Linked DNA regions of Homo sapiens: region 2 is linked to region 1. The links come from fine-mapping of genetic effects on gene expression. Tissue or cell type: skeletal muscle. Region 1 holds a variant in brackets; the other region holds the start of a gene. All regions are shown on one strand. Distances are from middle to middle.

Evidence for each region. PIP is the estimated chance that this variant, and not a neighbour inherited with it, causes the effect.
Region 2: MAPKAPK3 starts here. The variant in region 1 is fine-mapped to the expression of MAPKAPK3 in skeletal muscle (FUSION, PIP 0.95).

What each region holds. Positions count from the first base shown.
Region 1 is chr3:50,881,705-50,889,809 of GRCh38, forward strand. The region is part of intron 3 of DOCK3 (dedicator of cytokinesis 3); the gene reads left to right. Among named protein-coding and RNA genes, the nearest start is that of MIR4787, 210 kb to the left of the region's middle. The variant GT/G (reference allele first, on the strand shown) is at 3,660.
Region 2 is chr3:50,613,057-50,621,161 of GRCh38, forward strand. It overlaps MAPKAPK3 (MAPK activated protein kinase 3), which reads left to right and starts at 4,095. Exons shown (of 11, transcript NM_001243925.2): 1 at 4,095-4,185; 2 at 4,458-4,728. The coding sequence starts at 4,510. RefSeq lists enhancers at 2,858-2,947, 3,815-4,768, 4,769-5,721 and silencers at 4,039-4,088, 4,099-4,148, 4,399-4,548.

The sequences.
Region 1 (8,105 bases):
GATTCAATGCTGTCCCCATCATGTGACCAATGCCTTTCTTCACAGAATTGGAAAAAACTACTTTAAAGTTTATATGGAACCAAAAAGGAGCCCGCATTGCCCAGACAATCCTCAGCCAAAAGAACAAAGCTGGAGGCATCATGCTACCTTATTTCAGACTATACTACAAGTCTACAGTAACCAACACAGCATGGTACTGGGACCAAAACAGAGATATAGACCAATGGAATAGAATAGAGCCCTCGGAAATAATACCACACGTCTACAACCATCTGCTCTTTGACAAACCTGACAAAGACAAGCAATGGGGAAAGAATTCCCTATTTAATAAATGGTGCTCGGAAAACTGGCTAGCCATACATAGAAAGCTGAAACTGGATCCCTTCCTTACACCTTTTACAAGAATTAATTCAAGATGGATTGAAGACTTAAACCTTAGACCTAAAACCATAAGAACCCTAGAAGAAAACCTAGGCAATACCATTCAGGATATAGGCATGGGCAAGGACTTCATGATTAAAACAACAAAATCAGTGGCAACAAAAGCCAAAATAGACAAATGGGATCTAATTAAACTAAAGAGCTTCTGCACAGCAAAAGAAACTACCATCAGAGTGAACAAGCAACTTACAGAATGGGAGAACAGTTTTACAATCTACCCATCTGACAAAGGGCTAATATCCAGAATCTACAAAGAACTTAAACAAATTTACAAGAAAAAATCAAACAACCCCATCAAAAAGTGGGCAAAGGCTATGAACAGACACTTCTCAAAAGAAGACATTTATGCAGCCAACAGACACGTGAAAAAATGCTCATCATCACTGGCCATCAGAGAAATGCAAATCAAAACCACAATGAGATCCCATCACACACCAGTTAGAATGGCGATCATTAAAAAGTCAGGAAACAACAGGTATTGGAGAAGTTGTGGAGAAATAGGAGCACTTTTACACTGTTGGTGGGACTGTAAACTAGTTCAACCATTGTGGAAGACAGTGTGGAGATTCCTCAGGGGTCTAGAACTAGAAGTAACATTTGACCCAGCCATCCCATTACTGGACATATACCCAAAGGATTATAAATCATGCTGCTATAAAGACACATGCACACATATGTTTATTGCAGCACTATTCACAATAGCAAAAACTTGTAACCAACCCAAATGTCCATCAATGATAGACTGGATTAAGAAAATGTGGCACATATACACCATGGAATACTATGCAGCCATGAAAAAGGATGAGTTCATGTCCTTTGGAGGGAGATGGATGAAGCTGGAAACCATCACTCTGAGCAAACTATTGCAAGGACAGAAAACCAAACACTGCATGTTCTCACTCATAGGTGGGAATTGAACCATGAGAACACTTGGACACAGGGTGGGGAACATCACACACCAGGGCCTGTCGTGGGGTGGGGGAATGGGGGAGGGATAGCATTGGGAGATATACCTAATACAAATGATGAGTTAACAGGTGCAGCACACCAACATGGCACATGTATACATATGTAACAAACCTGCACGTTGTGCACATGTACCCTAGAACTTGAAGTATTAAAAAAAAAAGGCCATTTTGCTAGATATCTGTGAATGGCAAATAATCACGCACAAGGAGAAGTTTTTTCTTTATAAAAAAAAATGTTTGCTTCAACCATCAAACCTAATTAAGAAAATTCAAGAGAAAAATGAATGTCTATTATATTTACCCATGGGTTTGCTTACATTTTTTGTTTTTTCTTAGTGTAGTTCCATGGTTTTTTGTTTTATCATTTTCTTTCTGCTTAGAGAATTTTCATTCACTACTTTTTTTTAGGGTATTTCTGTTGATGACAAATTCTTTTTGTTTTCCTTCATCTGAAAATGTTTTGATTTGTCTTCCATTCCTGAAATGTATTTTTGGTAGATATAATATTCTAGATTGACAGTGCTTTTCTTTCAGCATTTGACAAATGTGCCACTTCCTTCTGTCTTCTATATTTTCATTGAAAATTATAGAAATTTGTATTTTAAATATTTTATACTTATTTTTCAAAAATCTAGAATGTAAAATACACATAACGTTTACCATGAGTGACATTTAGTACATGCATAATGTTTTACAAACATCACCATTATTATGTTTCAAAATGTTTTCATTTCCACAAACAGAAACTTCCAAGCCCATTAAGTGGCCATACTTTTTCATCCTCCTGCTGCTGACAACCATATGACTTCTTTCTGTCTCTGTGTATTTGCCTATTCTGAATATTTCATGTAAATGAAATTATATAATAGGTGTCTTTTGCATCTGCCTTCTTTCATTCAGCATAATGTTTTCTGAGTTCATTCATGTACGTTCCTTTTTATGGCTGAATAAGATTTCACTGCAAGTATATACCATTCTTTTTTTTTTTTTTTAATTTTTGATATGGAGTCTCGCTCTTTCAGGCTGGAGTGCAGTGGCGCCATCTCGCCTCACTGCAAACTCTGCCTCCTGGGTTCAAGCGATTCTCCTGTCTCAGCCTCCTGATTAGCTAGGATTACAGGCATCCACCACCACGGCCAGCTAATTTTTGTAGTTTTAGTAGAGACAGGATTTCGCCATGTTGGCAAAGCTGGTCTTGAACTCCTGACCTCAGGTGATTTGCCCGCCTTGGCCTCTCAAAGTGCTGAGATTACAGGCATGAGCCACCATGCCTGGCTGGATATATACCATTCAATAATATGAACAGCTCATTTATTTATCAGTTGATAGACATCTGGGTTGTAAACAGCTTTTGGCTATTGTAACTGGTGCTGCTGTCTTTTATGGTTTTGATGAAAAATCTGCTGATAATTCAGATAGGTTTTTTTCACTATAGGTAAGGTGTTGTTTCTCTCTTGTCAATTTTTTTCTTTGCCCATGGTATTCCAAAGTGACTATGTTGTAACTTGTGTATTTCCTTGGTTTTCTTCCTGCTTGGGATTCATTCAGCTTCTTGAATGTGTACGTTTATGTCTTTTTCCAAATTTGGAAAGTTTTGTGTCATTTTTAAAATTTTACATTTCAAATTAGACTTTTTTTTTTAAAGAGTTTTAGGTTTCCAAAAACATTGTGCAGAAAGTACAGGGTTTTCCTCCCCGCCCCCCACAGTTTTCCTATTATTAATATCCTGCATTAGTGTGGAACATTTGTTATAATGGATGAACCAGTATTGATACACTATTAATATTATTTGTTATTGACATTAGGGTTTACTCTTTGTGTTGTACCATCCTAAGGGTTTTACCAAATGCACAATGTCATGTAGCTATCATTACGGTACCATACAGAATAGTTTCACTGTCCTAACAATGTCCTTGTGTGCCACCTGTTCATCCTTTCCCACTTCCCCTAGGAACCTTGGCAACAACTGTGTTTTTTACTGTCTCTATGGTTTTGCTTTTTCTAGAATATCATATAGGTGGAGTCATACAGTATGTGGCCTTTCAGATTGATTTCTTTCACTTAGCAATATGCAGTTAATGTTTTCCCCATGTTTTTGTGGCTTTGTAGCTCATTTCTTTTTATTGCTGAATCATATTTCATTGTATGGATGTGCTACAGTTTGCTTATCCATTCACCTGTTGAAGGACATCGTAGTTTCTTCCAAGTCTTGGCATTTATGAAGAAAAATGGTATAAGCTTTTGTATGCA[GT/G]TTTTTTTTTTTTTTTTGTATGGGCATCATCTTTTCAACTCATTTGGGTAAATACCTAGGTGTGTAATTGCTGGATCATATGGTAAGGCTATGTTTAGTTTTGTATGAAACTGCCAGTGTCTTTTAAAGTGACTATACCATTTTGCATTCGTACCAGCAATGAATGAGGTTGAGTCACATCCTCACTAGTATGCCATTATTTCTTCATGTACTTTTTCAGTCCAACTGTCCCATTGGGCAGTTCTGATACCACCAGAGAAGGCTGACGGAGGGAGTCCTATTAATGCTGGTTAGGGGTGGAAGTCCAGATAATCCAGGCAATCTCCACTGCCACTGTGTGGTGGGAGCTTGTTATTACCTACTGGAGTAGAAGGTTTTGGGGTCCCTAAACAGTCAGCCACCTCTTACGTTACCCCAATGTGGGTTTGAGTGCTTCGTTACTGCCTGATGGTGGTGAAAGTCTAGTATCTCCAATTGACCTTACTCGTGTGGGTGGGGATTAGGTCACAGTTTTTTGGTGTGGGGGGCAGAGGGGGTTGCTGTTTGACAGCAGGGTAGTGGTTATTGTTTAAAAGTTTTCTGTCTTAATAGGATGACCTTTTCCTGGTTCTTTGGCTAGAGAGAGCAAGTTTTTGTTGGAGTTTCTTTCTGTCTGTTCCTGTTGGTATTTCCAGGTTTCCAGCTTCTTCACTTTAAAATAGCCTGATACATATGGCAAAAAGATAAACTAGGGAATTCACCACTATGTTATTTTGTGTCTCCCACATTCCCTAGTTGGTCTGCCTTCTTCTTTCCGCCTTTCAGAATATTTTTTATTTTGGAGATATATATATATATATATATATTCCAGAGTTTTTAGGTATGCACTAGGTGTTATTTGGAGAAATACTGAAAAGTATGTTTATTTCATCTTCCCAGAAGTGTATGCCAAGCATGTATATTTTAAAGATTTTTACTATCAATTGTTTTTTTAAAAACAGATAAACGATAGTCATCATTTAGCTATGGTTACGTGCAGTTGCTTTTTAAATCCTTTTTTTAAAAAATTTTATTATTATTATACTTTAAGTTTTAGGGTACATGTGCACAATGTGCAGGTTAGTTACATATGTATACATGTGCCATGCTGGTGCGCTGCACCCACTAACTGGTCATCTAGCATTAGGTATATCTCCCAATGCTATCCCTCCCCCCTCCCCCCACCCCACCACAGTCCCCAGAGTGTGATGTTCCCCTTCCTGTGTCCATGTGTTCTCATTGTTCAATTCCCATCTATGAGTGAGAACATGTATGTGGTGTTTGATTTTTTGTCCTTGCGATAGTTTACTGAGAATGATGATTTCCAATTTCATCCATGTCCCTACAAAGGACATGAACTCATCATTTTTTATGATGACTACTGGGTACATAATGAAATGAAGGCAGAAATAAAGATGTTCTTTGAAACCAGAGAGAACAAAGACACAACATACCAGAATCTCTGGGATACATTAAAAGCAATGTGTAGTGGGAAATTTGTGCACTAAATGCCCACAAGAGAAAGCAGGAAAGATCCAAAATTGACACCCTAACATCACAATTAAAAGAACTAGAAAAGCAAGAGCAAACACATTCAAAAGCTAGCAGAAGGCAAGAAATAACCCAAATCAGAGCAGAACTGAAGGAAATAGAGACACAAAAAACCCTTCAAAAAATTAATGAATCCAGGAGCTGGTTTTTTGAAAAGATCAACAAAATTGATAGACTGCTAGCAAGACTAATAAAGAAGAAAAGAGAGAAGAATCAAATAGACGCAATAAAAAATGATAAAGGGGATATCACCACCGATCCCACAGAAATACAAACTACCATCAGAGAATACTACAAACACCTCTATGCAAATAAACTAGAAAATCTAGAAGAAATGGATAAATTTCTGGACACATACACCCTCCCAAGACTAAACCAGGAAGAAGTCGAATCCCTGAAGAGGCCAATAACAAGTTCTGAAATGGAGACAGTAATTAATAGCCTACCAACCAATAAAAGCCCAGGACCAGAAAGATTCACAGCCAAATTCTATCAGGGGTACAAAGAGGAGCTGGTACCATTCCTTCTACAAACTATTCCAAAAAACTGAAAAAGAGTGACTCCTCCCTAACTCATTTTATGAGGCCAGCATCATCCTGATACCAAAACCTGGCAGAGACACAACAAAAAGAGAAAATTTTAGGCCAATATACCTGATGAACATCGATGTGAAAATCCTCAGTAAAATACTGGCAAAACGAATCCAGCAGCACGTCAAAAAGCTTATCCACCATGATCAAGTCGGCTTCATCCCTGGGATGCAAGCCTGGTTCAACATACACAAATCAATAAACATAATCCATCACATAAACAGAACCAATGATAAAAACCACATGATTATCTCAATAGATGCAGAAAAGGTCTCCAATAAAATTCTACACCCCTTTAGGCTAAAAACACTCAATAAACTATACCGATTGAACGTATCTCAAAATAATAAGAGCTATTTATGAACCCACAGCCAATGTCATACTGAATGGGCAAAAACTGGAAGTATTCACTTTGAACACTGGCACAAGACAGGGATGCCCTCTCTCACCACTCCTGTTCAACATAGTGTTGGAAGTTCTGGCCAGGGCAATTCGGCAGGAGAAAGAAATAAAGGATATTCAATTAGGAAAAGAGGAAGTCAAATTGTCCCTGTTTGCAGATGACATGATTGTATATCTAGAAAACCCCATTGTGTCAGCCCAAAATCTCCTTAAGCTGATAAGCAACTTCAGCAAAGTCTCAGGATACAAAATCAATGTACAAAAATCACAAGCATTCTTATACACCAATAACAGACAAACAGAGAGCCAAATCATGAGTAAACTCCCATTCACAATTGCGTCAAAGAGAATAAAATACCTAGGAATCCAACTTACAAGGGATGTGAAGGACCTCTTCAAGGAGAACTACAAACCACTGCTCAAGGAAATAAGAGAGGATACAAATAAATGGAAAAACATTCCATGCTCATGGGTAGGAAGAATGCATATCGTGAAAATGGCCATACTGCCCAAGGTAATTTATAGATTCAATGCCATCCTCATCAAGCTACCAATGACTTTCTTCACAGAATTGGAAAAAACTACTTTAAAGTTCATATGGAACCAAAGAAGAGCCCGCATCGCCAAGTCAATCCTAAGCCGAAAGAACAAAGCTGGAGGCATCATGCTACCTGACTTCAAACTATACTACAAGGCTACAGTAACCAAAACAGCATGGTACTGGTACCAAAACAGAGATATAGATCAATGGAACAGAACAGAGCCCTCAGAAATAACTCCGCATATCTACAACTATCTGATCTTTGACAAACCTGAGAAAAACAAGCAATGGGGAAAGGATGCCCTATTTAATAAATGGTGCTGGGAAAACTGGCTAGCCATATGTAGAAAGCTGAAACTGGATCCCTTTCTTACACCTTATACAAAAATTAATTCAAGATGGATTAAAGATTAAAGACTTAAATCCTTTTTTTAAGTCTCTATATTCTCCCATATTAGGATTTTACGTTACTATATGCTGTCTTTTATTATGAGCCAAAATACAAAACTCATTACTGTAGTCTAATTGCTTATAGCCTTCATTTGGGTGATTATTGGTGGTAGTGTGGGCCAAAGAGTATAAAATATATTTAAGCCATGGGTGTGTGTGTGTGTGTGTGTGTGTGTGTGTGTGTGTGTGTGTGTGTTTAAGACAGGTTCTTGCTCTGTCATATAGGCTGGAGTATAGTGGTGCTATCATAGCTCACTGTAGCCCCAAACTTCTGGGCTCAAGTCATCCTCCCAAGTAGCTAGGACTACAGGTGTGCACCACCACACCTGGCTAACTTTCTAATTGTTTGTAGAGACAGGATCTTGCTATGTTGCCCAGACTAGTCATGGAGTCCTGGCCTCTAACAGTTCTCCCACTTTAGGCTCCTAAAGCACTGGGATTACAAGCATGAGCCGCCAAACCTGTAAGCCATTCATGTTTTATTTAAAGAGCATTTTATACATCAGGAGATGGGGGCGAAACATTGATTGGAAAACTGATGTGGTTTTTTTTTTTTTTTAAATACGCTACTTATTCTTTAGGAATTGAAATCAAATTATGGTAAACAACAAAGTAGAAACAGTTTTGGAAAGAGTAAAAGAAGACATATTTTAGAAGTTCTTGAATTGATTCACTCCTGTGAATATTAATGTTAGCTAGAGTCTGAGAATTGTTTTTCTAGCTCAGAGCTAGATAATCTGTAAGTTGTTGGTTAGATGATGATATTAGTTTTGGAGATACATGACAAGTTCTGTACACAATACTGTTTCTGGAGAGTGAATTGATGGACCATCTCTAATCTACAACTCTTTTAAAATTAAAATTTAAAGTTTTATTTTTGCAGTGCTAAAGAT
Region 2 (8,105 bases), 270 kb before region 1:
GTGAATCTCCTCCAAACCCTTGGGCCAGAAGAACTGTGGGATTTGGAGAGGTTGCAGGGTCCACTCCCCACCCCCATCCCCCTCCCAGTGTGTGCCCCCAGGGTCCCCAGAAAGGAGTCTAGCTCTGAGATCCTGGGCAGGGATGACAGACCCCTGGCCTTGTTGAAGGGCCTGAACGATAGCATCCAGGGAAGACAGGGCTCAGTTTGCTCTGCCCAGAATGGCAGAGGGCAAAAGAAACCTGAAAGCAAAACCCTGTGAAACTGGGGAAAAAACGTTAAGTTTCAGATTTCAGGGCAGTCACTTCTCTGTAGCTTTCCTGAAGGGAAGCCGGGCTTCATGAGTGCAACTCTGCCAGCCCCCTCCTGAGTTGGCCAGAAGCCACTTTCTTGGAATGGGGGTAGGGGGGATGGATACCTTATAACCCACTTTGAGGGCTGGGATACCTGGATAGCCTGATATGCGGCCCCTGTGTGGACCACTGACTTGCCAGTAGGAACTGTCCACTGTCTCATTACTATGAAGACAAAAGGACTTTGCCGCTGCCAGGCAACAGAGTTACAATTTTGAACTTGGGTCTCTTATGGGGCCAAATCCCAAGCTCTCTACCAAAACTATACTTCTTCCCCCTCACCATGACTATTCAACTGAACACTTACTATGTGTCAAGCACTCTCAGCAATTTGCAGCCTCATGTCATTGTCACAACTACCACATATTATCTCCTCTTTACAGGTGAGAAAACTGAGGCATGGAGAGGTTACAATATAACTTAGATCTCCCAGCTGGCAAGTAATGGTTTAAGCCAGGAGCCTACACACTTCCTCCTACTTCCTCTATGGGTGCTGGTGATCTGCCGACTCCTAGACATCCAGCTTTAAGGTCCTCAGTGAAGCTTCTCTGCCCCCAGGCCTGTCCATGTCAGAGCACCATGGGTGTCCCTTTGAAAGTATCTCCTACAGGTCAGTGATTATGCAGTCTATGTGTAAACCAAAGGGTTCCAAGGGTTTTGGCCTTCCAACTATTTTTGTGTGTGTGTGAATATGACAGCACTGTGCACCTCACCTGCATGCTGGGAACAGTGATGTGCCCCTGTTCTGCCCCAAGTACTAAGTTGGGTCCCTCTGGCCAACTTAGTACTTAATTCTCCTGCCCTGGCTGCTCCCTAGAAACCCTGGCTCTGATTGCTGGGCCCACACTGCCACCTAGCGGTGCCCCCTCTCATGCCCTCACTAGCCAAATTTCCATAGATTCTTCTCTTCTAGGATAATCCCTCTCCTGCACCCCAGGGATTGAACTTACTGCAAGATTCCCCTGCCACTCCCTACCCAGAACAATCACAAGATGAATCACAAGAATACACAGCAGTGCCTTCCCAAAAGTCTCGCTCATTTGGCCTCCATCCTCTCACCATGTACAGCCTCCCCTCTCCAGTAAGGACAGAGTGTGTGTGTGTGTGTGTGTGTGTGTGTGTGTGTGTGTGTGTAGGATTTAGCCCCCCTCACTTTAAGCTATTCCAAAGTCTCTGTCCCCTTGGACACACAGCTACATGAAGGGCTGTGTGGCAGAGTCTGCCATCATGAACCCACTCCTGACCAGACCTAGCCATCCTGCATGCCAAATCCTCCCATCATTGTGGAGGGGATGCTGCAGGTGGTTGCTGGAACATGAGCACTAAGGGAAACCACATATTCTGACTTTCCTGGGCTAAGTGAGTAGTTTCAAGGCATCTCTCCGATGGACCCATGTGGGGAATGCGTGTGCCTGTGGAAGCATGGACACTGGTTATAGGGACTGGGAGGGGAGAAGCAGCACCTTTGCCTTACTTTTCATACTTCTGTATAATTTGAATTAATTACAATGAGGAAGTTTTACTTATGCAACTTAAAATTTTAATAAAAGAGACCAGCTTAAAAAATACAATTATAAAATTTGTAGAGCAATTATAATCTAATTCCATTTTAAAGAAAGAAGACATCTTCACAGAACATTCAGTGGGATGCCTTTGGCTGGGGCAAGGAGCCAGCCTCCACCCTCAGCTGCCTAGCCTTCTGCTCACCAGAATGACATCTTGCTCAGCCTCAGGTTCACCAGGCTCAAACTAGTTGCCTTCAGAGAGCAGAGAGCCTTCTTTGGCTCCCCCCAGCAGTAGAAGATTCCAGATCATAGGGCTTTCAAAGAGGCTCTGAGATCTTGAATCAGATTCTCAGGTTGGGCTCAGGGACATCAATCCTGGGTCCAGCTGGGCATAAATGCATGTGTGTGTGCACATGTGCATGTGTATCTGTGTGCATGTGTGTTATATGCATGTGTGTTTATACGTGTTATATGCATGTGTGTGCACATGTGTAAAGGTGTGACTGCATGTGTACATGTGTGAGAGTATGTTTGCACATGTGGCTGTGTGAGGAGCCAGAAAGGACTAGGAGAGGAGGCCATGGTTTGAGGATAAGAGCCCAGCCCTGAGGTTGTGCTTTGGAGTTGGAATGGGGGCTCTGTCATGACAGCTGCTGACCTCAGACAGGTCACTTAACCTCTCTGGGCTTTTCTGTCCTGTGTGTCTGTAGTGTGGGGCAGAAGGGATAGTGTGACCTCCTCTAGGCTCTGTAAGGTCAGGGGGTTGCAGGGAGAGCACATTCCCAGCATCTGGTCTGCAAGAAGTGTTCACTATGGCCAGCTGAGGCTATTGTCTGGAGCCTCCTGCTTCACTGAACACTGCTAGCTTGAAGGTTGCCTGAAAGAAATAGGGGCAGAGCCCCAACCCCATCTCCACTCAACATCTGCACACAGTGGGTACCCACTAATAAGTTGTAGCACCCTTTCAGTCACTCATTCACTCATTCATTGACAGAAGATCATCTTTCCAAGAGCTACTTCTCTGATGAGCCTGCACATGCAGCCCAGGGGTCCGTGAGTGTGCGTGTGTTAACCAGAGGGGCTGAGGGGGAGGCGCTCACTGGGCCTAAATTCCGGAGCCAAGAGTAGGATGGCTGGAAGACGCCTCTGAGTGGAACCGAGGTCCTGGTACCTGCAGTCCTGTAGATGGCCTGTAGATGACAGCAGAGGCCCATGCAGAGCCCCTGCGCTGAGCCGCACCTTCCCAGTTCCAAGTGAGCCAGCTCGCTCAGGTCCCTCAGCTTCCGGATTGGGGGAGTGATGTGATGTGCGCAAGTAGTTCAGATCTGTCCCAGAAGACAGCCACAGCCACCCTCCCTATGGCTCTAGACAAGTTGTTTTCTCCCCAGGGGTCCCAGTTTCCTCATCTGTGAAATGAGAGTTGCTTAACAGCCGGTGTTGGGAAAACTGGCTCAAAATACGTAAGGTAGTCTAAGATGGGCTTAACAGAGACTTATATGTGCAAGGCAAAACTAGAAAGCTAATGGAGAATATCTGTCACTCGGATGGGAGACAGAGACTTTTTAAACACGACGCCAAAAGCCCAAACCATAAGGTGAAATGTTGGCGGATCTGATCAAATGGCAACTCGGGATTTCTGGTCCCCAGGATGCTGTATATACCAAAGGGAAGCAGCGAGTCAAGGGCATAAGCGGGAGCTGCAAAAAGGGGGCAGTCGCCAGTGCTGGAGACTCCCAGAGCCACCAGAGACTAAAGAGTGGCGAATTCAACAACGACAAGATGCCACCTCCCTCGGCATGTTTAAAAAGTTGAGTACGCTGAGGGTTGGCCAACACTAGGCAAGTCGGAAGCCTAGCAAGCCATACTGGAGGGCCACCTGGCAGCGTGCAGAGCAAACACCCGACTCAAGGAGAGCTTTCAAGAGAAATAAGACGTCCTGCGCTGTCACGTTCTAGGTTGCGAGTAAAACCCGGGACCCGCACAGTAGCGGACTGCCAGTACAGGGGCCTCCCTGGGTGTCCCTGGAAACCGAGGAAGTAACCGCCCCCTCGGGAAGCCACGCCTCCTATTTTGTTCCGGCTCGGGGGCGGGACCCAGCCGGGGCCCGCCTGGCCCTTTAAGGCTGACCTAGCGGGGCCCCAAGTTGGGATGACGCGCAGGGAGCGGGGGGTGGAGTGGGGGAGTGGGGGAGGGGGGGGTGGGGAGGGGGGGGAGGTCACGTGGGCGCCGGCAGCGCGACTCTCGGCCCTGGGATTTCTGCGGCCGCCAGCTCCCGCGACCGCCTCTCCTGCCCCTCGCCGGTACCTCAGCAAGGTGCGTTGCCGCCAGGTACGCCCTCGCTGGGCCCCCTCTGCGGCCTCCTCCGGGGACCTCGCGGCCATTAGGCGCCCGGCCCCTTCCCTTCTTGACACGTGCCCGGGCGGTGCTCGCTTGTACCCCGCCGCGCGACCACCGCCCCTTGCTGCACGTCTGTACTCTCAGGCCGTTCGTCCCGCACTCCCAGCTTGCCCCGGGCTCGCAGCCCAGCCCAGTTCAGAGGCTCCAAGGCTGGGGTGTGTTGGAAAAGTCTGGGCGGGACTCACTCTTCCCCTTTCCCCCAGGTGCCACTAGAAGCGCCAGGCTGGGGCCGCCTCTGAGCGCCCCGCGGGGGCCATGGATGGTGAAACAGCAGAGGAGCAGGGGGGCCCTGTGCCCCCGCCAGTTGCACCCGGCGGACCCGGCTTGGGCGGTGCTCCGGGGGGGCGGCGGGAGCCCAAGAAGTACGCAGTGACCGACGACTACCAGTTGTCCAAGCAGGTGCTGGGCCTGGGTGTGAACGGCAAAGTGCTGGAGTGCTTCCATCGGCGCACTGGACAGAAGTGTGCCCTGAAGGTCAGTGAGCCCTCACTGAGGCCTGGGGTATCCTGGAGGGTCCACAGCGGAAGCCTGTGAGTGAAGCTATGTCTAGCGCCCCTGCTAAGCTTCCTATGCTCAGCAACATGTTTCATCGTCATACTGTCCTGTAAGGTCAGGCTTGTGGTCCTCCCTACTTCACAGATGGGGAAACTGAGGCGTAGCCTAGCTAAGCTTTGAGTGTCCCAGTGAGCAAGGGGTGGAGTCACTATGGCTAGAGATGCTGTATCCGGAAGCAGGGAAGGGGTGACTCCTGACTCTGGGATTCTGGCTGGACCCATGTGTTCAGGCCCAAAGGGGATCTCTTGTTCAGCTTGGCTGCCCCTTCCATGTGAAGCTCCTCTGACTGGAATGGATCTGTTTCCCTTTGCTGGAAGCTGAGACCCCACCAAGGCTTGGGTGGGACTGCTTCTTCCCTGTGGCCCCTGCCTGTCTGGGCTGGAGTGGTGTGAGCCTCCCAGGGCTGGCCAGAGGACAAGGCTGATGCCCACTGCACCTGTGGAGCCTCAGGAGGCTGCTGATAGACTCCTGACGAGTCGCTGGTCCCGTGTTGAAAGGGACAGGCCCTGGGCCAACCCACCCCTGGTTCCTGGGCAGAGGGCGGGCCAGCCATCTAGCCACCTCAGACTATAGGCTCCCTGGAGACCTGGCATGCTGATATAGGTGGCATGGTGGGGGTCAGGGGGATGCTGGGGGCGGGTACCTGGTTCCAGCTTAAGGCATACAGTTCTGGGCCTAGGGCCACACCCCATACCCAGAATCCCTTGAATCTGTCATCTCTGGGGTCTTTACTCATTTGTAGCTTGTGCCAATGGATGGGTAGAGCATGGCAGGGATAGTGGCTCCTGGAGGCTAGAAGTACAGCAAAGGCCCTTCTCATTTTACAAAAGATTTTTTTTTTTTGAGGCAGAGTCTCACTCTGTCGCCAGGCTGGAGTGCAGTGGCACAATCTCAGCTCACTGCAACCTCCACCTCCCAGGTTCAAGCGATTTTACTGCCTCAGCCTCCTGAGTAGCTGGGACTACAGGCGTGCGCCACCACGCCCAGCTAATTTTTTGTATTTTTAGTAGAGACAGGGTTTCACCATGTTGGCCAGGATGGTCTCGATCTCTTGACCTCGTGATCTGCCTGCCTTGGCCTCCCAAAGTGCTGGGATTACAGGCGTGAGCCACCGTGCCCGGCCTTTACACAAGTTTTAATTATGAGTCCAAGTGCAGAGTCCTCTAGATATGGCTAATAGCTATCCTGTGTTTGCCAGTTTCATGACCTTGGATGATATCCTAGACTCTGGAAGCCAGGTTTCTGCATCTATTCATGGGGAAAGATAAGGAGTTGTTGTGAACATGAAATGAGATTATACATTTAAAGCACTTGGTACAGGACCTGATACAGGTCTGGAGAGGTTACAGGACTTATTTAAGGCACAAGGTCTTAAAGCATCTGAGCAGGGAGCTGGACCCAGCTCTCTGTGTCTTTCCCAGGACCACTAGGGCCAACAGAGGAGGTTGTCTCCCCGGAGTACCTTGGAGGGGAACATGCGGGTGGGTCTAGGAGAGGATCAGGGTTGGGCTGGTGGGGCTGGGCCCCAGGTATAGCTTCTTTGCCCACTAACCCAGCAGTCGAATGGGGTCGGGGAGCTTTTCAGAGTATCAGGAATGGGATTCTCTGAGTCTTTTAGGGAAAAAGTGGCTCTTCTGAGGGCAGACGGGGGTAAGAGGATGAGGAATGAGAGTTTTCATCCCCCTCTGGGCACTATTTAACCTTCCACCTGTGCTAGGATTGAGGGCAGGCTGGGTGGGTGAGGGATTGAGGCCAGAGACCCACTTCTTAATACCAAGGCTTTGACCCTGTGGGCCAAGACTGAGCTCTGACCAGCCCCTGTGGTGTCCAGATGCTGTGGGTGAGTCAGGGATGGGGTGGGAGACCAGAATTTGTAGGCCCACACAGTGCCAGCTTTAAGTAAGACTGGACTTAACCCCTTCCCCATAGATGCTATGTCTGATGAGTGACTTGGGGTAACTTCTGACTGCAAGAACTTCCACAGCACCTCATCAGTGCTCTCCTTGTTCTGGACTGGGAATTGGGTCAGGCCTGGAGTGGATTTCCCTCTGTACCCCTTTATGGGTGAGCATGGCTAAGGCTACTAGCTTGGGACCTTCAGGATCTGGCCCTAAATTGGCCCTCAAAGGGGACATGGATTAGATGTGGCTCCCACTCCAGGACCTTCCTGTTCTTAGTATCACTAGTGACCAAGCCTAGAAGTCCTTACCCAGCTAAGCAGGCATTTACTATCTCCCAATATTGGGCTAAGCACAACCTCTGGTACAGTTATTTTACCTGTCTTGTGAGTGGTAGCTGTGGCCACGAGGAGGAAGGTGACATCTCCCCACTTATAGCTTCTGCCCATTGCCCAGGAAGACCAGGACCTGGGGACCTCAGTACATGGGCAGGCCTGGGCCCAGGGAGCTTAGCCAGCTCATGATGGATCACAGTCCTCTCCTTGCATCTGCCTAGCCCTCTCCCCGCAGTTGCCCCAGCTCAGCCTAGGCAACAGTCGTGGGCTCTGTGTCTTTCTGCCTCCCTGGTGATGTACTCCAGGTTAACCAGGGTGGCCTGTCCTCATCTTATAACTTGACCTTGTTCAGGCCATCTCTGCCCATTTGTCTCATGCTCATCCTCTTGGCTCTGTTGCCCAAGATGGAAGATAGTGCTTAACAGGAAGCCTGAAACTCAGCAAACACTCATAAAACAGGAAGAGCTGTGGCCACTGTCCTTGTAACTGTTGCTATTCTGTGGAGGCCCTAGAGGAGCAGGTCCCTCCCTCCCAGGGAGCTGGGCCTCTTCCGCTTTCCCTTAGCCCCTGACCACCTGCTTGGTTCATCTTGGCCTCAGTCATACTCAGTGGCTCCCTCCCAAGGCTACCTTCTGCTGCCAGTGCAGCCATTCTACTCCATTGTACCCCAAGCCCTCATTGCTGTCCTCTTGGCAGGAACTGGAGGACTGCCTTTCTTGGAGAGGGTGTATGGGCCAGGCGGTCCTCCAGTGTCTGCTTCTCCTGCTGACCTCTTGCTTGTGCCCTCTCCCAGGCTTAACTAGTTAATTAGTACCTTCAGCTTTCCCTCTAACTGGGCACAGCCCTGCAGATTTGTCACACATCAGTTACCCCACCACATCCAAGATCCAGTCCTTCAAACTTTATCACATACATGAAAATTGGGACCCAAAGTGAGTCACACGGTTTGAAGTGGGGGGTGTAGCAGAGGCCCGAATTTTCTCCCCTCCTGACATCCTGCCCAGCCCTCTTGTGGTTTTTGGCCTCTTGGCAGGCAGAAGTGACCATGGCACTTAGTATCTCT